3 separate regions of the Homo sapiens genome follow, and regions 1 and 3 are each linked to region 2. Evidence: fine-mapped expression QTL. A gene starts in region 2. Each other region holds a variant in brackets. All regions are shown on one strand. Distances are from middle to middle. Region 1 has its middle 250 kb from the start of SCHLAP1. Region 2 holds the start of UBE2E3 (ubiquitin conjugating enzyme E2 E3). Region 3 has its middle 130 kb from the start of SCHLAP1.

Region 1 (8,184 bases), 540 kb before region 2:
TTATTATTGTTAAATGTATTATTTCACTTTCTGTCTCCCTGAGTAGAATGAAGACTCTATGAAGACAGGGGTTTATATGTGTTTTGGTTGCTGCTGTATCTCTCCAGTGCCTAGAACAGTTCCTGGCACATTATAGATGCTAATTAATCTCTTGGATGAATGAATAAATTAATTTTATTCATTATAGAATCCCTGTTGGCATACATTTTGTATGCTAAATTATGGATAAAACATTTTAATTTTTTATTCATCCTACAGCATGGAGAATTATTTACAATTCAAACTTTTTTTTAAACTCCATGTAGTGCAAGGTTTTCAATACACTTTGGTGTAAAAATGTTTCAGATATGGAAAATATTTCTTAAAATTCAAAATCTTTTAAGGAAATTAAAAGACAGTAGAATTTTTCCTCTTTGCCTTCTGACTTGGGTGTTGATGTTCTAGCAATTAGAAACTTCATTAGTGGCCATATGGCCAAATGATCTCATTATGGACCTTTGAATTAATTTGCATTTTTATTATGCTTCTGCTTCTAAATTGTATGTACTGTGTTTGATCATTTGTGTACTTTTCAGAGAATTGGAGAATTCTTATTTTATTGAAGAATATATATTTTTAGATGGAACATAAGTAGTATGTGCATTCCAAATTTAAAAATTTTTTAATCACTAGATTATTAACAAAAACAAAAATAAAACCAAGTTATTTGTTTCATTGGATATGCCTCCTAACAATTTCCATGCACTTTTATGAGAAAACCTCTAATATGATAACATTATTTGTTTAGTACGTCAGTTTGGTAAAATTAAAAGAAAAGAAAACTATAAGTTGTTTGTGTCTTTAGGGTAAATTAGTAAGAGTAACATGGACTCCTTAATTCCAGGAAAGTCTCTGAACACTTCTCCCCAATTTCTCTATCACCTCCATACACACACACACAAATTACATATAAGGCCAGGAGGTACCCTCCAACTTGAAAAAAATAGAACAAGACCATCTGTGGTATGGGAGAGAACGGCCCTTCCTGTCCTTTAGTTTCTAGATCTGGCCAGTGACGAGGAAGTAGAGTATTAGAAAAGGTTTAATCATCTCATGGTTTGTGGGCTGTACAGGCTTTTGCTTCTGGGGAGGCCTCAGGAAACTTAAAATCATGGTGGAAGGTGAAGGGAAAGCAGGTACATCTTCACATGGCTAGCAGGAAAGAGAGAGAGAGGGAAGGGGGAGGTGTTACACACTTTCAAACAACCAGATCTGGTTGGAAATCTATTATGAAAACAACAAAGGGGACATCCCTTCTAAAGGGGGAACTCCAAAGGATTCAATCACCTCCCACCAGGCCTCTTTTCCAACACTGAAGATTACAATTTGACATGGGATTTGGGTGGGGACACAGAGTCAAACCATATCAGAGGACTTGGAGATTCCCAGAAGGAAAACAATCAGCCAGGGTAGGAAATTAATAAAATACTCCCCTCCCCTAGTGAATTTTACTATCCAGGAAGGAAAAGGATTGGGTTTTCCATGGGCAGACACAGAGATAGACTTTGAAATACAAAATTAGGGCTCAATTCTTGTGAGACAAAGAAAAGAGGAAGCAGGATTGGCCAGAGGAAGAATTTGAGTGTCATGTATGCCTGACGATGCTTGGGCCAACCTGTCATGGAGCTTCAAGGTATTATTGGTCAGAGTGACCCATGCCAGAGTGAAGTGTCTGGGCCTTTCTAGCCAGGGCTTACTCAGTCACAGAATGTGTCTCAGTCACAGAATGTCCTAAAAAGGCCATGATCTTGGGTGAGGCTTCCTCTCACACCTTCTCTTGGATCACTCAGTTTGAGGAAGCCAATTGCCATGTTGTGAGGTAGCCCACTGGAGAGGCTCACATTGTGAAGAACCTGAGGGACCACATCAGTAAGCTTGGAAGTAGCCCCTCTACACCAACACACACAATAGACCTTTCAGATACACTTGCAGCCCCCAGGTGATAGCTGAACTACAATCCTGGACAGGACTTGAGTGAGAGGCACCAGCGAAGCCATGTGCTAATTCATGATGCACATAAATTTGAGATAAAATTCTTGTTTTATAAGCTGCTAAATTCTGGGGATAGCTTGTAAGCAGCAGTAGATGACTAATCAGTTGAGGCAACCCCAAGGCAGCAAGTCCTTACTTGAAGGAGGATTTGGGTGGCACATCTCTATATCTGTCATAGTCTACCTGTTTTGTCATTTGTATACACATATATTTGAGTAACAGCTCCTCCAGGATTCTGGTGGGCCACTTTTCCTTAGGGGAAATAGAAAAGAAGGAAATTAGCAGAACTAACTACAGTTGCTCTGCTATGGTTGATCTCAGGACCAATATTGCTATTTACTTTATTTCTCCTATACTAGTCATTTTAGGTCCTGCACCATCAGGCACTATGTCTGCTGTCCTTGGTCATGTGTCTGGTAGCATTACTCAGACTGTCCTCCCCAAGAAGTCTGATCTATGGTTACCATGTCCTCCTCATGCCTGCACTGCTGGATCTGTCCATTTACACTTACAGTTGGGCAAGGGATTACTGTGAGGCACTCAACCAAATCATCTGAGTGTCACATGTATTTCTCACTGTCTCCACTGTATAGCAGCAGTCCTAACCCTTAATGATTTAACTCAGTTACTCCTGCTGATATGGTGACTCCTTTTTTCCCCCAAATCTCCAGACAACAGTCATACTAATAATTCTACAGAGCTTTTATTTTGTCCTCTGGTGAAATTGTGACCTTTTTATAGATCAGGGCCTTTAACTCTACAAAGCACCGTTGCAGGGACAGGAAGCACCAAGTTCAAGGATCTTTATTTACTGTAGTACAGGAGCCATTTCTGCTTCTACTTTTTGGTTCTGGAGCCCTTGCATTCTTATCAGACACACAAAGCTGCACAAAATCCTTTGATTCAGTGTGAATACTGCATATCCAGAGAATGGCACCCCAACCTCATAGAGCACTGCCTCTGATTTGGGCTTTAGCTACTCATTTAGCAAGCCATTCCAAGGCTCTATTAGACTAGCAGCATCTGGAGAGAGCTTGTGATACAGCCAGTGAATGTCATGGTATGGGCCCACAGTGGCACTTCCTAT[GTGGTAAA/G]TGGTCTTCTGGTCTGAGGAAGTGTTGTGTTAGATTACATATTAGTGGATCAGAAATTTCATAATCCCTCAGCTAGAATGATGACTAAGGCTTTTGGGCAGAAAAAGCAAATTCATGTCTGGAATACATGTTAAATCTAGTCCTGTGAGCATAAAAGAATGGCACTTCCATAATGGAGGTGGCTTGTACGACTGGTTGGACTCCTTGAAGAATGGTGTTGCATCAAGGGCTCCACACTGATATCTGGTGTTGGTAGGGTAGAAATTCAGCAGCTAAATTGGACTTCAAAGGTGGGAGTCCATGCATTGGCACATGCATAATCTCCTTTTCTGCCACTGTGGTCTCTTAATTCATTTTTTCTCTTAGTCAACACTGGGGAGGTTGAATACAGAGGTTGGCTGACACCAACTGCTTGAGTTATTTTGTGTACTTAGTTGATTAGAGTCTTCTGTGATTGATATTCCTTTGTAAGCATTGACATATGACATGTATATTCCCATTTCATGCCCATTCCCATATGCCCATTTCATAGACATCCCATATATATCCATCTAATAGACATCCCATATATCTAACACAGCCTCCTCATCCCCAAACTTTGTTTTCCTTCCATAATCCTGAAAAGTCAGATAGGCCTTTTACCATTGCCCAAGAGTCTGAATACATTATAACTTCACTAATTTTATCCAAAATTAATGAACAGGTACACTATACCTAATATGTTTTTTAGAAGTATTTTCCTTCTTCAATGGGTCATACAAGATCCCCCATACAGCTATAAAAATCAGCTGAGGGAAGGGTTCAGTGGCTGATTCCAACCCTGTTTTTGCATAGTCACTTTCATACTATGATGGGTTGCTCCTGGGTCTACACTAACTTATAAATTGGTGGGTCTCACAGGAGTTAACTAATGATGGACAGTTCTGGCCACATGTTCACTTGGTGAACTATAGTCAGGCATTTCATTTTTACCACAGCTCACTAGCCTGCCTGGAATTATTTTTCAAAAGATGTATAATTGTGCACTGCAGATGGCAAGACTTTGCCCTAAAATTTCAGGGGATCTACTTTGTGGTTCTTCCACTTGGACTTACCATATGACAACTTTTCACACCACTGATACTGCCTGCACCACAGAGCGAGCCAGATCATATGGTCCAAGTGCGAGGGCTGCCTGCACAGCAGTTTGGACCTGTTGTGGAGCTCTTTACTTCTCTGTACACCATTTAAGGCTGACAGTCTTTTATATCATTCTGAATATAGATGTGGAATGCACCAATTTCAGAGATGGAAAAAGCCTACCAGTGTGGTTCTTCTTTATCCACGGTGGATGTACAAGCTATGATAATTTGTATGTTACTTTGGAGAGGATGTCTTGCTACACCTCTAACCATTGAACCCCTAAACATTTTATGGTTGTGGTAGTCCCTAAAATTTATTTCCTTCCCTTTAGAGCACGCATGACTTATTGAGGCCTCACGTATACCAGCCACCGCTTGCTCATCTGGCCCAACCAATAAAAAGTTACCAGTGAAATGGGTCAGTTGGTATTCTACATGATATCTAAATTCTCCTACACACATGACACAGGGCCAGAGAACTAGGATAGTACCATTTTTGGTTATGCATTTCTATGACACTTGGGATATTGTATTGCATTAACTACCTCCATAACTCTTTTCAGCTCAGGTTCTCTTGGGTGCAACCCTGACCTGCCTAATTGTTATAATGATTACAATCCTTTGGTTTCGGAAGTTAAATGCTGCTACCTACTTTTATGTTTTTTGGGGTCCTGTTACCCCTGTTGCTGTCAATAAGCCAATTTATGTAACAAGCTTTCCTATTGTCAACGTTGACTTGAAAAGGAAAGCCACCATTAAACTTTCTGGTACACCTCTTATCACTGCATTCCTGTGTCCTTGGCAAATAGTGTGTCTTCTTGGCCTTCCTATGGAATGTAATCATGTGGTGGTTTTCCAACCTTATGTGATATATTCATTCCAGGATGCCCACTTCCCTGAGCCCTTGATTTCTTTTCTTCACTGTCTGCCATGACAATTCTGACATTTCAACTGATCTCAGAATGGATCATCATTTTTCTATGCTTATAGGAGTTATCCTAGTAGTGAATTCACACTGTAGTGGAATCTTTGCTAGGGTGCATCTGGAGAAAGCGTTCCAAAGTCGATAAGTGCTTGCTAGCTAATTTAATGTTCTGGTCTTCTTGATCAAACATCCTCAGAATCCACTTCTTTTCTTTTTCTTTTTCTTTTTTTGAGATAGTGTCTTGCTCTGTCGCCCAGGCTGGAGTGCACTGGCGTGATCTCGGCTCACTGTCACCTCGACTCCCTGGTTCAAGCCATTCTCCTGCCTCAGCCTCCCGAGTAGCTAGGATTACAGGCATGCACCACTGTGCCCAGCTAATTTTTATATTTTTATTAGAGACGGGGTTTCACCACGTTGGCCAGGATGGTCTTGATCTCCAGACCACGTGATCCGCTCACCTTGGCCTCCCAAAGTGCTAGGATTACAGGCGTGAGCTATCATGCCCGGCCCAGAATTCACTTCTATGCAAATTCTCCTGGCTTCTATAAGTACACATTGGCTAGGTATCACAACAACTTTGGGGTTTTCCCAGAAAACTCACACATTTCCCCCATCCACACATAACAGGCTTGCTGTGGTTTTACATTTAACTTTCTTCGAAATAAAGTCACTTATACTATTAGGTACTGGGTGTGGTTCTCAACTTTCTCTTCCCTCTGCTGTGCGTGAAGAGAAATTCATTGTATTTATGTAACCAAAGAGGTTCACTGGCTTTCATGCCAGGATTTCAGTTGGCTGTCATTTACCCTTTGCTGTATAGTTTCTTTCTGTAGAGCATCCATGGCACTTAGAAATAGTCACACAATTCCATTATCTTTATAGCTACTATTTCTTCCATATTTATCAAATACCAGATAGGCTGAGCCCAGTGTACTCCTTTCTACTAGTAAAACCTCCTAATTAACCTCCAGTGGAAGTTTTAACAACGGCTCTGCCACTTTATGCCACAAGCTATTGGTGCTAAACACCAAACGGTGGTGGTGTCTTCTTCCACATGGGTATGAGTGATTTAGCTTCAAAACAATCTTATTGCCTGCTTTCTCAAACCACTGCTGAGAGCAGCTGTTACTCCTGAGCCACTGAGATGGAGTCTGAGATGCCAGATGTTTATTAGAGATCAACACTTATGACAAGGATTGGAAAGGAGCACTTTTGAAAAGAGGAAGGGGCCAAATTGCAAAGCAGCTTGATGAAGTCTTCACCAACCCTGCAGAAAGTTCTAGAGTGAGTATTGTCCACATCAGAATTTCCTGTGTCAGGCCACAATGGCCAGGCCTTTATATCCCTGCTTTGCCCAGTGACTGGATATTGGCTGACTCCAAAAAGTTGACCCTTGGGCCAGGCAACTCTGCAGCTAAAGCATATCCTAAAAAAGCTAACGGATGAAGGCTATCTGTTGACTATACTTCTTGCAGTTGGGCAGTCTTTCTCTGAAGTGAGATCTGCGTAGCACATTTCCATGTATACTACAGGTAGGCTGGACTGTTAACCAGAGCTCAATAGTCAGATCTTAAGGGATGGTTGTTTTAAACCCTGAATTTACTTCTATTCAGGAAACTTGGCACTGGGGCAAGTGTTGTATTGTGGTAACAGTGATTGGACTTATAAGCTTAAAGCATGAAGGTTTAAGCTATGTTGCTTAAGCATGGAGTACCCTTGACCTTGAATACTACCAGAAGAAGTTGCATTCTCCTTCCTGAAGGAATCAACTGTGGTCTGAGCAGATATATGAGCCAGTAAGATTACTACTGGAGCCAATGGCAGGAAAGCATTAAAACATGCAGAACAACAATCTGTGAATATACTGAAAACTTTTGGATCGTACTCTTTAAATGGATGAATTGTAGTATAAGTTAATTACATCTCAATAAGATTGTTAAACAATTTTTAGAAGTAATTTTCAACCCGTCATTTCTTAACAGCCAAAAAAAGGCAAATCATCCCCAATCTGGCTTTCTGGGAAACTTTTTATAGCCTCAGATAATCACCTGACATCTGTTTCAGAGGAGGGCTGGTTGTTTCACACGAATTAAGCCTCCCAGTTAAGGTAGAGGCGAATGGAGGGGGGAAGGGGGCAGATACTAGAGGTCCTGTTGTTGTTGTTGTTGTTGTTTTTGGCATACAAAGTTTTCCAGAAATTACTTTAAGTATTAAAATGGATGTGATTTAATTTATATCCTAGGGTGGCAAAGAGGGTCAACCAAATACACGTGCTTATATGTTGGTCTTTTTGAAAACATCCTTGGAAAGTTGCCCTTTTCCAGAATGGCTTCCAAGGATCTATTCTGAGCTCTGTGAAGACAGTAAAAACATTCACTGGTGCTTTAAGATTGGTCATTCATTCAGTTGGTCAGTCATCATTCATTCAAAAATCATTTTTGAGGAGTCTACTAAATGTCAGGCGTTCAGCTGGCCACAATGAGTATAGAATTTATTGGGAAGTCCCTGCCATGATAGAGGGAAAGATATAGGAATTTAAAATATAGTGTATTTTGCTGTATTTTATAATAGATGCATGAAGAGAGTGCTTATGGGGGCAGAAAAGACTAAAGTCCTTTTGCTCTTTTGTTTAAATCACTTGCAATAAAAATTATGCTTACAAAAATTGTATTTGTCTTATAAAACTCCAATGGTTTCATGACAGTAATTACCTCTTCTTTTCCTTTCTCTCACTTTTCCCTTCCAGTTGCCTTCTGGGCTCTTCTAGGTCTACTTAAGAATCATAAAACCGGCTTATAGAAAAATATACTGACCTAGGTATACATTATCAGGAAAACACCAGACTAAGTAACCAAAGGAGAGACTGGGATCTTATGCTGGAAACTGCTTCTAATTAACTAATTGGATTATTGTGATCTTTAGGACAATATGTGTGACAGAAGCTTCAGCAAGAACCTGACACCTAATGAGCTCTCAATATATTTAGTGGGGAATTAGTTGTAAGGGTTCTGGG
Region 2 (8,184 bases):
TGTAAGAACTTATTTTAAAAAACTGTTAAAACAAAACAGCATTTATTTTTGCCAAATCTACACCCCTGCATTTATTCACATCTTTTTTCCCCTCATAAAAGTAGTACCTGCTCATTAAACTAGAAAAACACTGAATATAGTAAAAAGAAAATAAAGTTGTTCATATTCATAGTCACTCTAAAATCTAGGTACTGGTCAACCTTTTGTTTTCAGACATTTTTGTTTTGCTTATTGTAAAAATATGATGCATATTCATTCAACAAATATTTATAGATGATTTACTTTGTGCTCGGTACCTTGAGAGGTATTGAGGCAGGCTCTGATTTCCCAGTAACTAAAATAGACAAACTTCTACCTTAAGTGTATTTTATAATAATCTGTTTTTGTATTTTAGCTTGCTTTTCACAACTGTTATTTTAATAATGGCAAATTTAATTATGTGGGTGAATCAGTATGTGTAATCATTTGCATATTGTTGGACATTTCCAGTTTTTCAGTATCATTTTTCTCACTTTTAGAATGTTTCCTTGAAGTACATTTCTTTTGAAATGGAGAAATCTGGTCAAAGGGTATGGCCACATTTAAGGCTCCTGAAAAAAATTTCCAAATTCCTTTTCGAAACATGTACCAATTTTCATTCCTACTAGAAATGGACAAAGGGATTTTTTAAAAAACAATTTGCCAGGAATTATTATAATAACTAAAAATTGTTTTTGTTATTTTGATAGATATTTCATTTCAACTTTCCTTTCTGGATAACTAGCAAGACTACATTTTTGTTATAATGTTAAATATTTCTTTAAAAATTTTTGCCTTTTGACATACTAAGGTGCTCACGGTTTTGTTTCATGTGTACAGGCTCCTTACCATGACATGAGCCTTTTTTGGTATATACCTTCCCTGAGAGTTATCTCAAAAGAGAAATACAGAAAATAATCACTGAGTTATCTGACGTCAAACCAAGGCTTATGCACCTTTCCAACTCCAGGGCCCAGCCCTTGGTGTAGGACACAGCAGGTTTTCCCCTCAGGATGCAGTGGAAGTGCACCCAGATGTCAAGCGGCACATTGGATTCTGGGGGTCCAAAGACACTGGGACTAACAATGACAAACAAGGCTGTGTAAACTAAGGCTGAGCCAAGAAATACCTTCCTAGTAAACCAATCCAGTCTTTATGGGTAGAGAAAGAAAATTTCTTAGCCAGAGAACTGAGGATACAAGTAACTGGAAAGCATCAGAAACAGCCAGTAAAAATGAAGGGACTCTTAGAAAAGTTATTGACTGGAAGGAAACAAAGTACCTTAAAATCAACAAAATAAATTCATATTTATTCTACATTTTTTACATGTGAGGGATGCTGCTGGTCATGGTGGATAAGTAGAGGTCTATACCCCAGCTTACATAATCATTCAATTCAGAAACTTCTTAGGTAACTCAGTGATAGATCCTGTGAAATTCTTAGTTATACATACTCACAGTTATGTACACAGATAACACTGAGACTCATTGAAAGGCGCAGGAAAAAGCATCTCCCAAACTAGGGAGGTGCAAAGGATTCTGGGGTCTGCCTTATTTGCCCTTAGGCAGGCCTCTTTTTGTCACAACATTTGGTGGATAAGGGGATAAGAGATAATCATTGTAATACTGCAATTGGATTCGGCATCTTCCCTCTTACCACTGCCCTTCTCAGGGTTGTGAGAGGCTGGCAGGACCCCACACCAACAAGAGAAAATAAAAGAGACTGAGAGGAAACAATCTTCTTTGTGGTAGCTGGTGTCTGCTTGTGGAACTATTCTGAGGGACCTTATGGGAAAAGGGCCCTTTTTATATTTTATGAAATAATTGCATTAGGTCAAATTTGTATGCTTCCAAGAGTGCCTGTGAAACATGATCCTTAATTTCAAGGATTGACATAGCAAAAACAAGAGAGAAAAAATAATTACAAAACAGGTTGTCACACAAGGAAGAACTAAACATTAGAAACAATTTACACCTTACAAGTTACTTCTGGTGGAGGTGATGCCAAGTCACCTGGGAGAGGAGCTGTGAGCTGAAATCATTTGAGCAACCCCTTGAGTCAGCTGAATGAAGGCAGCCAGGCACCTCACATTGTAGGGGCAGGGCACTACTGCCCCTAACCTTATGGAGCCATTCATTATCTTTACGGTGACTTTAACAATAGGTATTATTTGTTGAACACCCAAATTCCAGGTATTTTGCCAAGAGCATTATCTATATTATCTACATTATCACTGGCCCTAGTGCTCTCTCCAGGACCAATCTAATGTTTCCTTCTTTGACCTTTACCTCATGCCCCACAATTCCAACCTGAATTAATAGTTCCATTATTAGTTAATTGATGATTAGTAATGCTCTTTTCTCATTCTCTTTACTTCTTTAATACAGCACTTCTCATTCTGCAGGCTACGTTTCTGGCTGCCCCACTGCACAATTGAGCTTGGTTAAGAGCATGACCCATGTTTCACTCCAGTTTCCCAAGCAGTTAGTAGATCCTAAATATTCTGTTGGGTGAATGTTAAGTTAAACTCCATGACTTCAAGTTCGCCAAAGAATCACGGAATCATGGAATTTTTGAGCAGGAGAGGACTTAGAACCTTTGATACAATCTCCTTTTACATAAAAGTAATTGAAATAACTTAACTTGCCTGAGGTCATATGAACTTCGTAGAATGAGGATTAGAATACACTTCCCTGGCTTTTCAACCCAATACTATTTCTTCTGTAGAAGATGTTACCAAACAACTAAATATCTTTCTCCCCTAAGCTCCTTACCCCACTAAATCCTATCAGCAATTGGCCTTTGGGCCTTCAGGCTATTTCTGTTCTTAAATTTCCTAAAAGAACCCATGTTTAACGTACAGCTTTCCTTTTCTGTCTCCCCATTCCAAACAAAGCAAAGCTTCAACTCCAAATTGGCTGGCTTTTGCTGTAACATCACATCGTGTAAAGCTGGGGGAAAATTCTGCTTTTATTTTCACTAACAAGCTTTTCCCACAAGCACTCTTTGACCCAGCCAAATCAAAATGCTTGTCCACACACAGACCATGATCTTTTTTGAGGCATGAGATATTCTATCTGTTCATTCTGAGTGGAATATCCTTACTACTTATGAACCTAGCGAACTTTAATGAACTGTTCCCCTTCTGGACTAGGAGCTCTTAGCACAGAGTAGAGACCTGGCTTTAGTCACACAGCAATTGAATGAGTGTATGTCCAGCACCTAGCAACATATAGCCCTCAATAAAGTTAACTGAATGACTGTGTCTTTGGAAAATTATGGAAATGTAACTTACTCTTTAGAGTTGCTATCAAGCCTTTACCAAAAGTTTTCTATTAGGAGAAATAGTAAGCAAATACGTTGGCTCACTCAGTCTTTTCTTCTTTCCCTTAACTCTATACATCTTTTGACTGCCATTCTCACTCCCTTTGTGAACTGCACATTCTCACAGCACCCCTGCCCCTGGACACTTGTGGGAGAGGAATCCACAAATTCCTTTGAGGCTCCATCACCGGAACAAGTTCTCAGTAGCTGGAGAAGGCCTGGGTGGCAAACAGGAAGTTTTTGTATTCTGGCTACTTTGTGCCGTGGGGTAAAAACCGCAGAGTCCACCTGGAGACTGCAAAAAGAATGGTAGAACAAACAAAACTGTCACTATCTCCACCTAAAGCTTTTCTGGGTGGACATTCTGACTCAACATCACTCAGAACTTTTCTTTCCAGAACTGGCTCCTCATGTGCAAGACAGAAGAGTCCCGCAGAAAAGTGTCATGTTTTAGCTCTCATCGCCACCCCCCAACCCCAAACTCTTCTCCTTCACTTTTAAGAATGTTGAGCGGGACATTTTAAACACTGTTTTGGATTTTTAAGGTTTCAAATAATCCGAAGGACACTTCCCTTTGGCAGCGACAGTTGCAAGCTATGAGCCAAAAAGAAATAGAGGTTGTTCCCCTAATCTCCAAATACATTCTACCCTCTTCAATTCCCAGGACCCCAACTTGTCCCTTCCTCCAGCTTACGCGAGGGGCAAGTGGCAGCTCTTCTCCGCCTGCGTGCCTGGCCTCGTCAACAACACCCATTAGTCTCCCGTCTCCCGGGGCGGCGGGGGACTCCCAACCACGCGCCCAGGGCCCTTGCCCAGGTACTGGGGCCCCGGGAGCCACGACGGCCCCCGCGCAGGCGGATGGGATGGAACCAGCCCTGGGGACGCGGGTAGCCCAATGGGCAGCCTCGCCCCGGAGGCGGGCCCAGGCCGGAAGCCACCCCGCGGCACAGCGGCCCCGCGATACGGTGCCCGCGCCCCCGCCTTCTCTGGCACAGGCTCCGCGGCCAAGGGCGGCAGGGGCCAGCCCGCCGGGTCCCCGCCGCGCTCTTTGTCCTGGCCGCGCGCGGGCGGACGCGTGCACCCCCAGGGTGAGGGGAGGTGTGGAGAGCGCGCACGGGAGCGCGCGGGAACAGCTCGCGCCCGCCGGGCGTCGGCGGCGCGCGCCCCTCCGCCAGGCAAGCAGCGAGCACGCGCGTCGCCGCCGCGCCCGCCCCTCCCCCCCGCGCTCGCCTCGGAACTTGCTGACTGCGCGGCCGGGAGGAGCCGAGCCGGGCGGCGGCGGCGGGAGGCTACAGCGCGCGGGGGTCTCCCGCGTCCCCTCCGCCTCGCCGGGAGCTCGCGCCCTCGCCCAGCCGAGCTCCCACCCCCGCTTTTTTCCGAAGGCGCTGGGCGGCGCCACCCTCCGGCCGGAGCCCGGCACTGCACAACCCCCTCCGACTTTCAATGTTCCACACTCCCCGGCCAGAGCCTCCTCGGCTTCTTTTTTTCCCTCCCCCCCCTTCCCCCCCCCACAGCTGCCTCCATTTCCTTAAGGAAGGGTTTTTTTCTCTCTCCCTCCCCCACACCGTAGCGGCGCGCGAGCGGGCCGGGCGGGCGGCCGAGGTAAGGCGGCGGGGCCGGGGGGCCGCGTGGGGGGCGGCCGGGGCGGCGGCGGCGGTGGGGGAGGGGGCGGGGGCGGGCAGCTTTGTTCGCGCCGGGCGCCCGCGTCGCCGGTGTCCGCGAGCCGCGGCGGGGCCGGCTGGGCTGCTCGCATCACTTGGCGCCCGGCGCGGCGAGCGCTACCCGCGGCCCCCGCGCGGCCCTCCCCACAAAGGGCCGCGGAGCTGCGTGGCCGCCGCCGCCGGCCGTGGCTCGCCTCCGCGGGCGCGGAAATTTGTTGCACTTCTTGGGGCTTTGTTTATTTGTTTGTTTTTTCTCTGGGTTTCTTATTTTTTTCGTTATTTTGGACAAAATGTCGGTCCGTGATATAAAAATTGAGCGAGGAACCTTGGTGGCATTGGGAGCTTTGCAGAAGGTGCAGTTTGAATTCTGCTTTTCCCAGGGTGGCAGCTCGGTCTTGGCCGGATGAATCTTCGCTGCTGGCCGTGGAAACAGCTAGAGCAGCTCGTTAGTTGATTTTTAAATTTCCAAGTGTTGTGTTTAAAGGCTTTACGTGCACTGAGGAGGAATCGCCACCTTAAATAAGCATATGGGCGATTAACAGGGTGTGTTTTCCTCTCGGAAAGGGAATTTGGTAGCTTTGACCAATGTCAGTGTGTAAATATTTAGACGTTATTAGTGACTTTTAAACATTTTTCAGCGAGATCTGTTATTTACAGTGTGTCATATGTTATTAATGCTTGTTGCCTAAGTTCCTTGGCAAATCTGTTTCATGCCTTCTGAGAAAGTAGACAATTGATAGATTGTCCAAGAGACGGAAAAAAATGTGAGTGGGTTTTCTAACTTGAGTTCGGCAAATCCCTTAACGCTGGCGTTGTGTGACACATCACCTCCCTTGTACGTACCCCTGTTGTACGATGAAATAAGTGTGAACACTTTTGAAGCTTTTTCATTACAAGACGATTTTAGATGACTAGAAGAAAATGCTGTTGGTTTATTTCCTAGATTTAACATTTTCTCCTCCTCCTCCCCTGTTCTCTTTAAAAGTTTTCCAAGAGATAACTTCACCAAGATGTCCAGTGATAGGCAAAGGTCCGATGATGAGAGCCCCAGCACCAGCAGTGGCAGTTCAGATGCGGACCAGCGAGACCCAGCCGCTCCAGAGCCTGAAGAACAAGAGGAAAGAAAACCTTCTGCCACCCAGCAGAAGAAAAACACCAAACTCTCTAGCAAAACCACTGCTAAGTTATCCACTAGTGCTAAAAGGTAATGTGTAAAAGAAGGATCCAGCACACTTTGTCAGGTTGTCTTCCAGGTGGTTGGACGCTTTTGTTGGTTTTACCTCAATAGCAGTAGTTCAGAAATATTTACTTCATTATCAGTTTAATTGTACTTGAATGAGTTGTCATTCTTTAGGTGGTATGTAAGCAACATTACTAGAATTATACTTTTAAGCAAACTTAATTCTGTACTTCGGTAACTTCAGTTAAGAGTGTCCTTGAGTAGAGATTAGACTAACATTCTGACAGATTGTTTAAGGAGTTGGCAAGGAAAATTTGGTGAACCCAAATTAGATGGTACTTTGGGGATGTTCCTTTTATGAGTCATAATCTTCTTTAATGAAATTGACACTTCCAGAGATTAGCAGTGCCTCTCTTCATGAAACTTAATGATCAGAAATGATCATATTTGCTAGAAAATTTGCAAATTCAGGCCTTTGCTATATTTGAAAGCAGATTTAAAATTGTGCTGCAAATCTGCTTACAGTTTTACAAAACATGACTTTCAATCGTATATCACAGGTAACTTTCCTGGTTAAATTATGATTATCCCTTCCTGTGCTTGTGAGGGCAAATCAAACTGAAAAGTAGCCCTTTACAATTTGAGGTGTCACTAGTGATAGAAAACTTGCATTGTCCTTGGGCCTCTTCACTCTGAAACTTGTGGATGTGCTTGACAAGTTAATACTCAACAGCAGGAGAAACATATTTAATTGGATGTAAGTGAAAGATCATTTGTTTCCTATTGATTGATGTTTTCTGATGGAGAAAAAAAGATTCTGTCAATGAGACTCTTATCAGTGGTAGTAGTAGTGGAATATCCACAAACTCTAGTAATTATACATAAAATGTATAATGTTTACAGCATTAACCAATTTTGACATTTTGTTAATTTTTATTGATAACTAAAGGAAAAAGAATATAAAAACTGATCAAATATTGCATTCTGTGGTGATTCATAAATACTCATATTTTTCTATGGATTTTCACCCTTATTGTCTCAGTAATGAAGTATTAATAACTTGATAATATTTTTGAATGGCAGCAGTCTTTGACATAATTTAAAATTCTCAATTTGGTATAGTGTTGATGCGGAACATATTAGACACATCTAAAGTTTTGAAATCATCTTAAATTTGAATCAAATCAGAGAACTGCTTTTCTCCCCCTTAACTCAGGCCTATGTATTTTCTCCTCTTTCTCTCAATGTTTATTAAATTTAAGTGCTGTACCTAAAATCAGGGAAAACAGAAATGGTTAAATTAGAATGTCAAGTAGTCTTTGAAAGTTTTTCACAAGTAAAGATATTTGTAAATTTTAAACTTTTTTTTTGACAGATAAAATATTGTCAGAACTGTTAATGTGCTCTTGCAGTAGCCTGTTAATTTTTACCTCAGTAAAAGTCACTTCAAGTCCTTGTCAAATATTCCAGTGCTTTCCCTCCTCCCTTTTTGTCTCATTTGCATATAAGCTTGAAAAGAGAATTTCTTTGGTAAAAAGTGTTTTGAAATAGATATTATATTCTTTACTGAGTACTAGTGGATGAGTATTTCTCCAATCAAGTGTAAATGACTTACTTGTTTGCAGCAGCAAGTGAGAAAAAAAGCTGCAAAGTTTCTGTTAAGGGATTTGGGTTATGCCTCTGAGAACAAAGAGGAAGCAGCCATGTTAGCATTACTGAAGGCAGAGCCAGCCTTGCATTTAACTGCATGGTGGTAGAGGGCAGTGTAATTCCCTGGTTATTCTGTAGACTATATCAAATCCTTTTTGTCTCTTCTCATTTCACTAACAGAATTCAGAAGGAGCTAGCTGAAATAACCCTTGATCCTCCTCCTAATTGCAGGTAAGAAATGAATTTTGTTGTTTTGGTTTCAAATTGTGGAAAAATACCAAGAGATTGATGTATTGTCTGGATATGTGTGCAGCAGAGGAGACAACATTTGCTTCTTTACAGCTTTGCAAG
Region 3 (8,184 bases), 420 kb before region 2:
TGAGTGAATTCTGCACCAGCAACTGAGGTATCCAGGTTTTCTCACTGGGACTGACTAGGCGGTTGGCGTTACCCACAGAGAGTGAGGAAAAGCAGGGTGGTGCAAGGGCCCACCTGGGAGCCACAGGGGGAAAGGGGAGCTCCCACCCCCAGCCAAGAGAGGTGGTCAGTGATTGTGCTACCCGACCCAGGAAACCACGCTTTTTCCACGGATCTGTGCAACAGCCGGATCAGGAGATCCCCCTAGTGAGCTCACGCCACCAGGGCCTTGGGTCCCAAGGACAGAGCTATGCAAACTCTCAGCAGCCATTTGGCCGGAGACTACCTAAAACTACCGAGTTCACTGCGGCTGCCTGCTGCCTAAGATGACTCAGCTCCTGGGGGGAGAGGCGCAGCCATCACTGCGGCTCCAGTCTGCCATTTTTTTCCCCTGCCAGTACGGTGGAGACTGGACAATTTCGACCCAGGAGGAATTCCGCACAGTGGCTGTGGCAGATCGTGGCCAGACTGCCTTTTTAGGCCGGACCCTAACCCATGCCTCCTCACTGGGTGGGGTCTGCCTGCGGGAATTTCAGCAACTCCAGCAAGGGCTTTATGGATAGAACCCTGAATTATCTGGGACGAAGCCCGTAGGGGGAGGAGCAGCCAGTTTTTGCAGATCAGCCGACTTAGTCTTTCCCCCCTGCTGGCTCTGAGGAATCCAGGCAGTCTGGATGAGCGGAATTTCCCCCAGTGCAGTGCACCCTCTCCACCAATGGGCAGCCAGAGTGCTTCGTTAAGTGGGTCCTGGATCCCTTGTCTCCTGACTGGGTGAGACCCGCCCCCCATCAAAAGGGGTAGACAGACACCTTATACAGAAGTGTTCCCTTTGGCATCAGGTCAGTGCCACTCTGGGTCAGAGATCCAAGAGGAAGGAGCAGGCTGCCATCTTTGCTGTTCTGCAGCCTCCACTAGTAACACCTCTAGATGCAGAAGGGATAGGGTCTGAACTGGATCTCCAGCAAACCACAGCAGTCCTACGGAACAGGGTCCTGATTGTTAAACAAACAAACAGAAAGCAGCAGCAACAACAACAACAGCATCAACAAAATGTCCTCACAAGAGCCCCATCCAAAGGTCAGCAGCCTCAAAAATCTAAGCTAGGTAAACTCATGGAAGATGAGAAAGAATCAATGAAAAAACACTGAAAACTCAAAAAGCCACAGCGCCTCTTCTCCTCCAAATGATCACAACACCTCTCCAGCGAGGGCACAGAACTGGGCAGAGGCTGAGATGGATGAATTCACAGAAGTAGGCTTCAGAAGCTGGGTAATAATGAACTTCATTGAACTACATGAGCATGTTCTAACCCAATGCAAAAAAGCTAAGAACCATGATAAAACATTACAGGAACTGTTAACCAAAATAGCCAGGTGAGAGAGGAACACAAATGACCTGATGGAGGTGAAAAACACAACCTGAGAACTTCACAATGCAACCGCAAGTATCAATAGCTGAATAGACCAAGTGGAGGAAAGAATTTCAGAGCTTGAAGACTATCTTGCTGAAATAAGACCGACAGACAAGGTCAGAGAAAAAAATAATGAAAATAAATGAACAAAACCTCCAAGAACTATGGGATTATGTAAAAAGACTGAAGTTACGACTGATTGGGGTACCAGAAAGAGATGGAGAGAATGAAACCAAGTTGTAAAGCACACTTCAGGACATCATCCAGGAGAACTTCCCCAACCTAGCAAGACAGGCCAACATTCAAATTCAGGAAATCCAGAGAATCCCAGTAAGATACTCCACGGGAAGATCAACCCCAATCACATAATCATCAGATTCTCAAAGGTCAAAATGAAGGAAAAAAAAAATGTTAAGGCAGCCAGAGAGAAAGGACAGGTCACCTACAAAGAGAAGCTCATTAGACTAACAGCAGATCTCCCAGCAGAAACCCTACAAGCCAGAAGAAATTTGGGGCCAATATTTAACATTCTTAAAGAAAATAATTTCCAACCCAGAATTTTATATCTAGCCAAGCAAATTTCATATCTAGTTTCATAACCAAAGAAGAAATAAAATCATTTTCAGACAAGCAAATGCTGAGGGAATTTTTCACCACCAGGCCCGCCTTGCAAGAGCTCCTGAATGAAGCACTAAATATGGAAAGGAAAAAACTGGTACCAGCCAGCCACTGCAAAAACACACTGAAATACAAAGACCAATGACACTGTAAAGAAATTGCATCAACTAGTATGCAAAATAACCAATCAGCATCATGATAACAGGATCAAATTCACACATAACAATATTAACCTTAAATAAAAATGAGCTAAATGCACCAAGTAAAAGACAGAGACTGGCAGATTGGATAGAGTCAAAGCTCATCAGTGTGCTGTATTCAAGAGACCCATCTCATGTGCAAAGATACACATAGGCTCAAAATGAAGGGATAAAAGAAAATTTACCAAGCAAATGGAAAGCAGAAAAAAACAGGAGCTGCTCTCCTTATTTCTGACAAAACAGACTTTAAACCAACAAAGATCAAAAAAGACAAAGAAGGGTATTACATAATGATAAAGAGATCAATTCAACAAGAAGAGTTAACTATCCTAAATATAGTTAACCCAATACAGGAGCACCCAGATTCATGAAGCAAGTTGTTAGAGACCTACACAGAGACTTAGACTCCCACACAATAATAGTGGGAGACTTTAATACCCCACTGTCAATACTCGACAGATCATTGAGACAGAAAATTAACAAGGATATTCAGGACTGGAAATCAGCTCTGGAACAAGTGGATGTGACAGAAAATTTTTGCATTCTATCCATCTGACAAAGTTCTAATATCCAGAATCCATAAGGAATTTAAGCAAATTTACAAGAAAAAAATGAACAGCCCCATTAAAAAGTGGGCAAAGGACATGAACAGACACTTCTCGAAAGAAGACATTTATGTGGCAAACAAACATATGAAAAAAAGCTCAACATCACTGGCCATTAGAGAAATGCAGATCAAAACCACAATGAGATACCATCTTAGACCAGTCAGAATGACGATTACAAAAAGTCAAGAAACAACAGATGCTGGTGAGGCTGCGGAGAAACAGAAACACTTTTACACTGTTGGTGGGAATGTAAATTAGTTCAACCATTGTGGAAGACAGTATAGTGACTCCTCAAAGATCTATAGCCAGAAATACCATCTGACCCAGCAATCCCTTTACTGGGTATATACCCAAAGGAATATAAATTATTCTACTATAAAGATACATGCACGTGTATGTTTACTGCAGCACTATTCACAAAAGCAAAGACAGGGAATCAACACAAATGCCCATCAATGATAGAATGGATAAAGAAAATGTGTTACATATGCACCATAGAATACTATGCAGCCATAAAAGGAATGAGATCATATCCTTTGCAGGGAGATGGATGGAGCTTGAAGCTGTTATCCTCAGCAAACACAGGAGCAGAAAACCAAACACTGCATGTTCTCACATAAAAATGGGAACTGAGCAATTAGAACATATGGACACAGGAAAGGGAACAACAAACACAGGCGTCCTTTCAGGGGCAGGGGGAGAGAGGAATATCAGGATGTGGGGCTTAATACCTAGCTGGTGGGTTGATAGGTGCAGCAAACCATCATGGCACATGATTACCCATGTAACAAATCTGCACATCCTGCACATGTATCCTGGAACCTAGAATAAAATAAAATTAAATAAAAAACCTATTTCTAAAATTGAATCTAAACACTAAATTGATAAAACTGAAGAAGTGATTTCACAATCACTAAAAAAGTTTGCATGTATAGCAAAGGAGAGAATAAACTTCACTCTCCCCAGAACATGAGAAAAGACATACAACTTAATATGACTATAGTAAGCTATTGTTTATTATATTAATGTGAATAGATTAGTTTCCTCTACTTACAAAAACATAATCATCATATTAGACCAAAAGGAGAATTGAAATATATGCTCTTTATTAAAGATCTACTAGAAAGTAACACAAAGTTATTGTTTAAATGTGATAAGCAGAAATATAAAATAAATAGAAAGAAAGCATGTGTTAATAATGTTAATACCAAAAAAGTTAGAATTCAATGGAAAAACTTTCCATGGGGCAAAGAAAAATGTTTGTTATTCAAACAGGTTAACTGTGAGCTCACATTTATGTTCCCCTGACAAGAGTACTGATAAATACATAAAGCTTCATGAGTAAAACAACAACAGAAAGTTCTCTGAGTCTTTGGCAGATCAAATGGATAAAAAGTAGAACATGAAATCAAGGAATTGAATAATAAAATGAATAATATTTATTTCATACATTTATCTACCTTTTTATAGTACACGTAAATTATTGTACTATAAATGCCATGGAAAGTTTACAAAATATAACTTGAACTAGACCCAAAGAGAATCTAAAAAAATTTTATAAACATACGAATCAGTACAGAACACACTCTGATCAGGTGGGTGGTGGCCATGAGAATTCACCTCACAGAAATCCAGGCATAGGGCACATAACCGAATGAGGTCTGGGATGCTACACTTTGAAATCTATCACCTCATTTGCACCAAGGCCATGCATCCCACAAGCCCTTCTACAACAAAGGCTGAGTGCGGTTGTTATAGTTAGGAAGATTTATGCCTGGGAGATTGAGGACTACATTTTCAGCTAACTGACTCCAGGAGTCCTCAAAAGCGCTGTCGAAACTTCAAAACTGCACAGTAGTAGTCTAGGATACTTTGCCAACAGTTCCCACCCTCTCTCACTCAGGGTCAGCATTGCATTGCTGTATGGTAGCTCTCCCAGCTTTGCCCAGTTTCCTTCCTGTTTCCCTTCACGCGAGCATGTCCTCTAATTAAATCTTTGTACATTAATCCTGTCTTGGCATCTTGTTCTTGGATATCTCAGCCTAACACAAAATGTAATAAGATTAGAATTATTGCCAATAGCATACACAGAAATAGCAAATAGGTGAATTTTAAAACTAATTGCTAAATAATTTTTTAATCAAAAGAGAAAACTGAAAGTACAATTATACAGTTGCAAACAATACCATG[C/T]GATGAAACTTATAATCAAAGTTGTGTTTAGAAAAACATTTGTAACTTAAATGCTTCTATTAACCAAATAGAAATGAAAATATACCTACCAAAACTAAGAACTCAAGAACATAGAAAAAATAAACACGCCTAAGCACAGTAGGTTGAAGGAATTAATAGGGATTAAAGCAGACATCAATAGAATAGAAAACAAAAATACTATATGTGATAATTATTTTCTTACCAGAGGTGGCTTTTCTCCTCAATTAATTTTAAAAATAAGAAAATATGTGTAGAAAGTTTGAAGGAAAAATGCTGAGTAGTCATAGATAAATAAGGTTTATAAAAATAATTATAATTGAATATTACATGGCACACAATGTTGAAAAACATGATCAGGATTAAACATATAATTTTGAAAGACTTACATTTAACTAAAACTTGTTGAAGATGATATAATAAAACTAAATAGATCAATTTAAAAATTAGCAAGTTATCCTACTCATCTCTAAAGAGACTGGCTCAAAGTTTCAGAGGTCAGTTCTTTGTTTTATTCTATTTTTATTGAGCAATAATAATTGTATATATTTTTATGGGGTATAATGTGATGCTTCCATGCATGCATATATCGTGGAATGAGCAAATTAGGCTAATTAACATATCCATGTCATAGGTGAGTTATTTCAAACATTTTAGTAACATAAGTTATATTTTATTTACAAATGTCTAGAGTATATACAAAGCAGGAAAGGTTATCAATGTATTCAATACATTTTTATAGGCATGATAATAAACCATAACTATAGGGGATGGGAAGGGAGGATCAATCCATATCACTTATAATACCGAGGCAAAAATTGTAGAAAAGGTTTGGCAAATCGGATCAGAGAAGTCAATTTAGAAGAGGTGGTATCAAGAATGAACTGAAGAGTAGGATTTTCACCAGCGGAGCGAGGCATTTGAAACAAGGAAAAGTTAAGTGAGCTGCAGGGGCACAGCACAAAAGACCCACCTAGGTAAAATGACCATGCTTCCCAGTTTCCCTGGCCAGTGCTTGCTTATACTGCTTTCCAGTATAACTGTTAGTAGCATCCTTTTCCACTCATGAAGGTATGCTGGGTCTGGGCATGGTGGCTCACAGCCTTTAATCCCAACACTTTGGGGCAGAAGCAGGTGGATCACCACTCAGGAGATCTAGACCAACCTGAGCAACATGGCAAAATCCCATCTCTACAAAAACTACTAAAATTAGCTGGGCATGGTGGCACCCACCTGTATTCCCAGCTATTCAGGAGGCTGAGGCAGGTGAATCTTTTGAGCCCAGGAAGCAGAGGTTGCAACGAGCCTAGATTGCACCACTGCACTCCCACCTGGGCAACAGAGGGAGATCTTGTGGAAAAAAAAATATTCTAGGGTCTCCATACCTATTTAAAATGCTGAAAGCTGAAAAGAGCATTGTTTTTATTCTAACAACTACAATACAAAAAGCTGAATAAACTATACAATTGTAATTATTTGAACCACAGACCGAAAGATGCAGGGCAACCAAGTAGCCTAAAATCTAATAAAAAGGATGCATCTTCAAGGAAAAATGAGACACAAGCCCATCACAAGCACAGAGCATGGAAGGAAGAGTTGCCGTTACAAATAGATAAAAAATTAACTGAATTTGTTAATGAATTGATAAAGGCTGGTTGTGGGTAGGTGTAAAACCATATAATCCATGGAGCCATAAACACAAGGGGGATTTGCACCCACTCATCCTCTTTTCCATGGAACACAACTAGTGTTGATGAGAAACTCTGATGCCAGGGCAGGAAAACAATAAAAATCGAACTTTGTTTTATGGCTTGGAGGAGGGGAGAGGCCACCACTGCAGGAAAGGCACAAAGCCCTGGCAGAACCATCTTCTCCTGTGAGTTTTAAGCCCTTGAAGAGAGAGCAGTAAGCCCTGTCAACCTCAGGGCACAAATTAAGATCCATTACAGCCTGAGAAAGAGTAAAAGAAAAAAAAACTTTTATTTTTAAGGAAACAGGAAACCATGCTCAACCCTATCACCGGAGCAGCAAGAAAGTCCCACACAAGAACTACCAAAAATATAAGAGGGTTTGCCTGCCAGGGAGGTGAGCAGCAGGATGACTGCCAAAGCTCCATCCCTAAGGCCCAGGGACACAAGGCCAGCCTAAGAATGAGGCTGGAGCAGGACAATAGAGAAACTCCTTTCCACTTCTATAATAAGGTTAGAAAGTCCCAATTCGCAAGCTACAAATGTCTATCTCTGTGACAGCGATAAGAGGATTGAGACACCCACTATGAGGTGCAGGCACAAAGGGAAGGCTGAAAGCCAAGGGTGGAGTAGAAACATTCAGCAAAACGCTCTGGCAACCCAGCTCCCAAGATAAACACAAGATAACCCTCCAGGATTTAAAGTCTGTGATACACTCAAGGAAACAATAGGAACAACAAAACTCAAACCAGCTCAGATATGGAGTAGATTGAGTCAACTGCATGCACTGTTGGTCTAGCAAAGAGGGATGCCCATTTTCAGGCACATATATTATTTCTCCCTGTCCTTACTGGAGCTACTCACAATGAGTGACATTCAATAGAAGAAATAGAAGGCTCACAAACAAGTAAGAAAAAAGAGCCCACTGGAAAGAGATAAAGCAATTAACAGACACCGACTCAGAAATGGCCCAAATATTGGAACTATTGGACAGGAAATTTTAAATATTATTATTAATAAATTATAATTTCTCATGGAAAACATGGTCAACAGCCATGAACAGATGTGGACTTTTGCAAAGAAATGAAAACTATTCAAAAGAGTCAAATAGAAATGCTAAAAAATATCTATCAAAAATGAAGGTGAAATAGTTTTTGAGACAACAGAATACATACATACAAACATACATATATACATATGTAAAAGAATTTAATATCAGCAGAACTGCACCACAGGAAATATTTCAAAAAACAAGCAGACAGAAAACAAAGATGTCTTTAGGCAAAGGAACATGATACTAGACAGAAATTTGAATCTATACACAAGCAGGCAAATGAAGAACTCTAGGAATAGTTAAAATGAAAGTAAATTAAAAAGACACTTTTTATTTTTAATCACTCTAAATCGCTTTTC

What was found.
Region 1: its variant is fine-mapped to the expression of UBE2E3 in whole blood (TOPMed, PIP above 0.99).
Region 3: its variant is fine-mapped to the expression of UBE2E3 in whole blood (TOPMed, PIP above 0.99).

The regions. Positions count from the first base shown.
Region 1 is chr2:180,440,899-180,449,082 of GRCh38, forward strand. No RefSeq gene overlaps it. Among named protein-coding and RNA genes, the nearest start is that of SCHLAP1, 250 kb to the right of the region's middle. The variant GTGGTAAA/G (reference allele first, on the strand shown) is at 3,119.
Region 2 is chr2:180,976,030-180,984,213 of GRCh38, forward strand. UBE2E3 (ubiquitin conjugating enzyme E2 E3) reads left to right here and starts at 4,576. Exons shown (of 6, transcript NM_006357.4): 1 at 4,576-4,944; 2 at 5,989-6,207; 3 at 8,014-8,064. The coding sequence starts at 6,014. UBE2E3-DT (UBE2E3 divergent transcript) reads right to left here and starts at 4,983. Exons shown (of 2, transcript NR_187176.1): 1 at 4,037-4,983; 2 at 1,301-3,637. RefSeq lists a silencer at 3,994-4,853.
Region 3 is chr2:180,555,208-180,563,391 of GRCh38, forward strand. No RefSeq gene overlaps it. Among named protein-coding and RNA genes, the nearest start is that of SCHLAP1, 130 kb to the right of the region's middle. The variant C/T (reference allele first, on the strand shown) is at 5,066.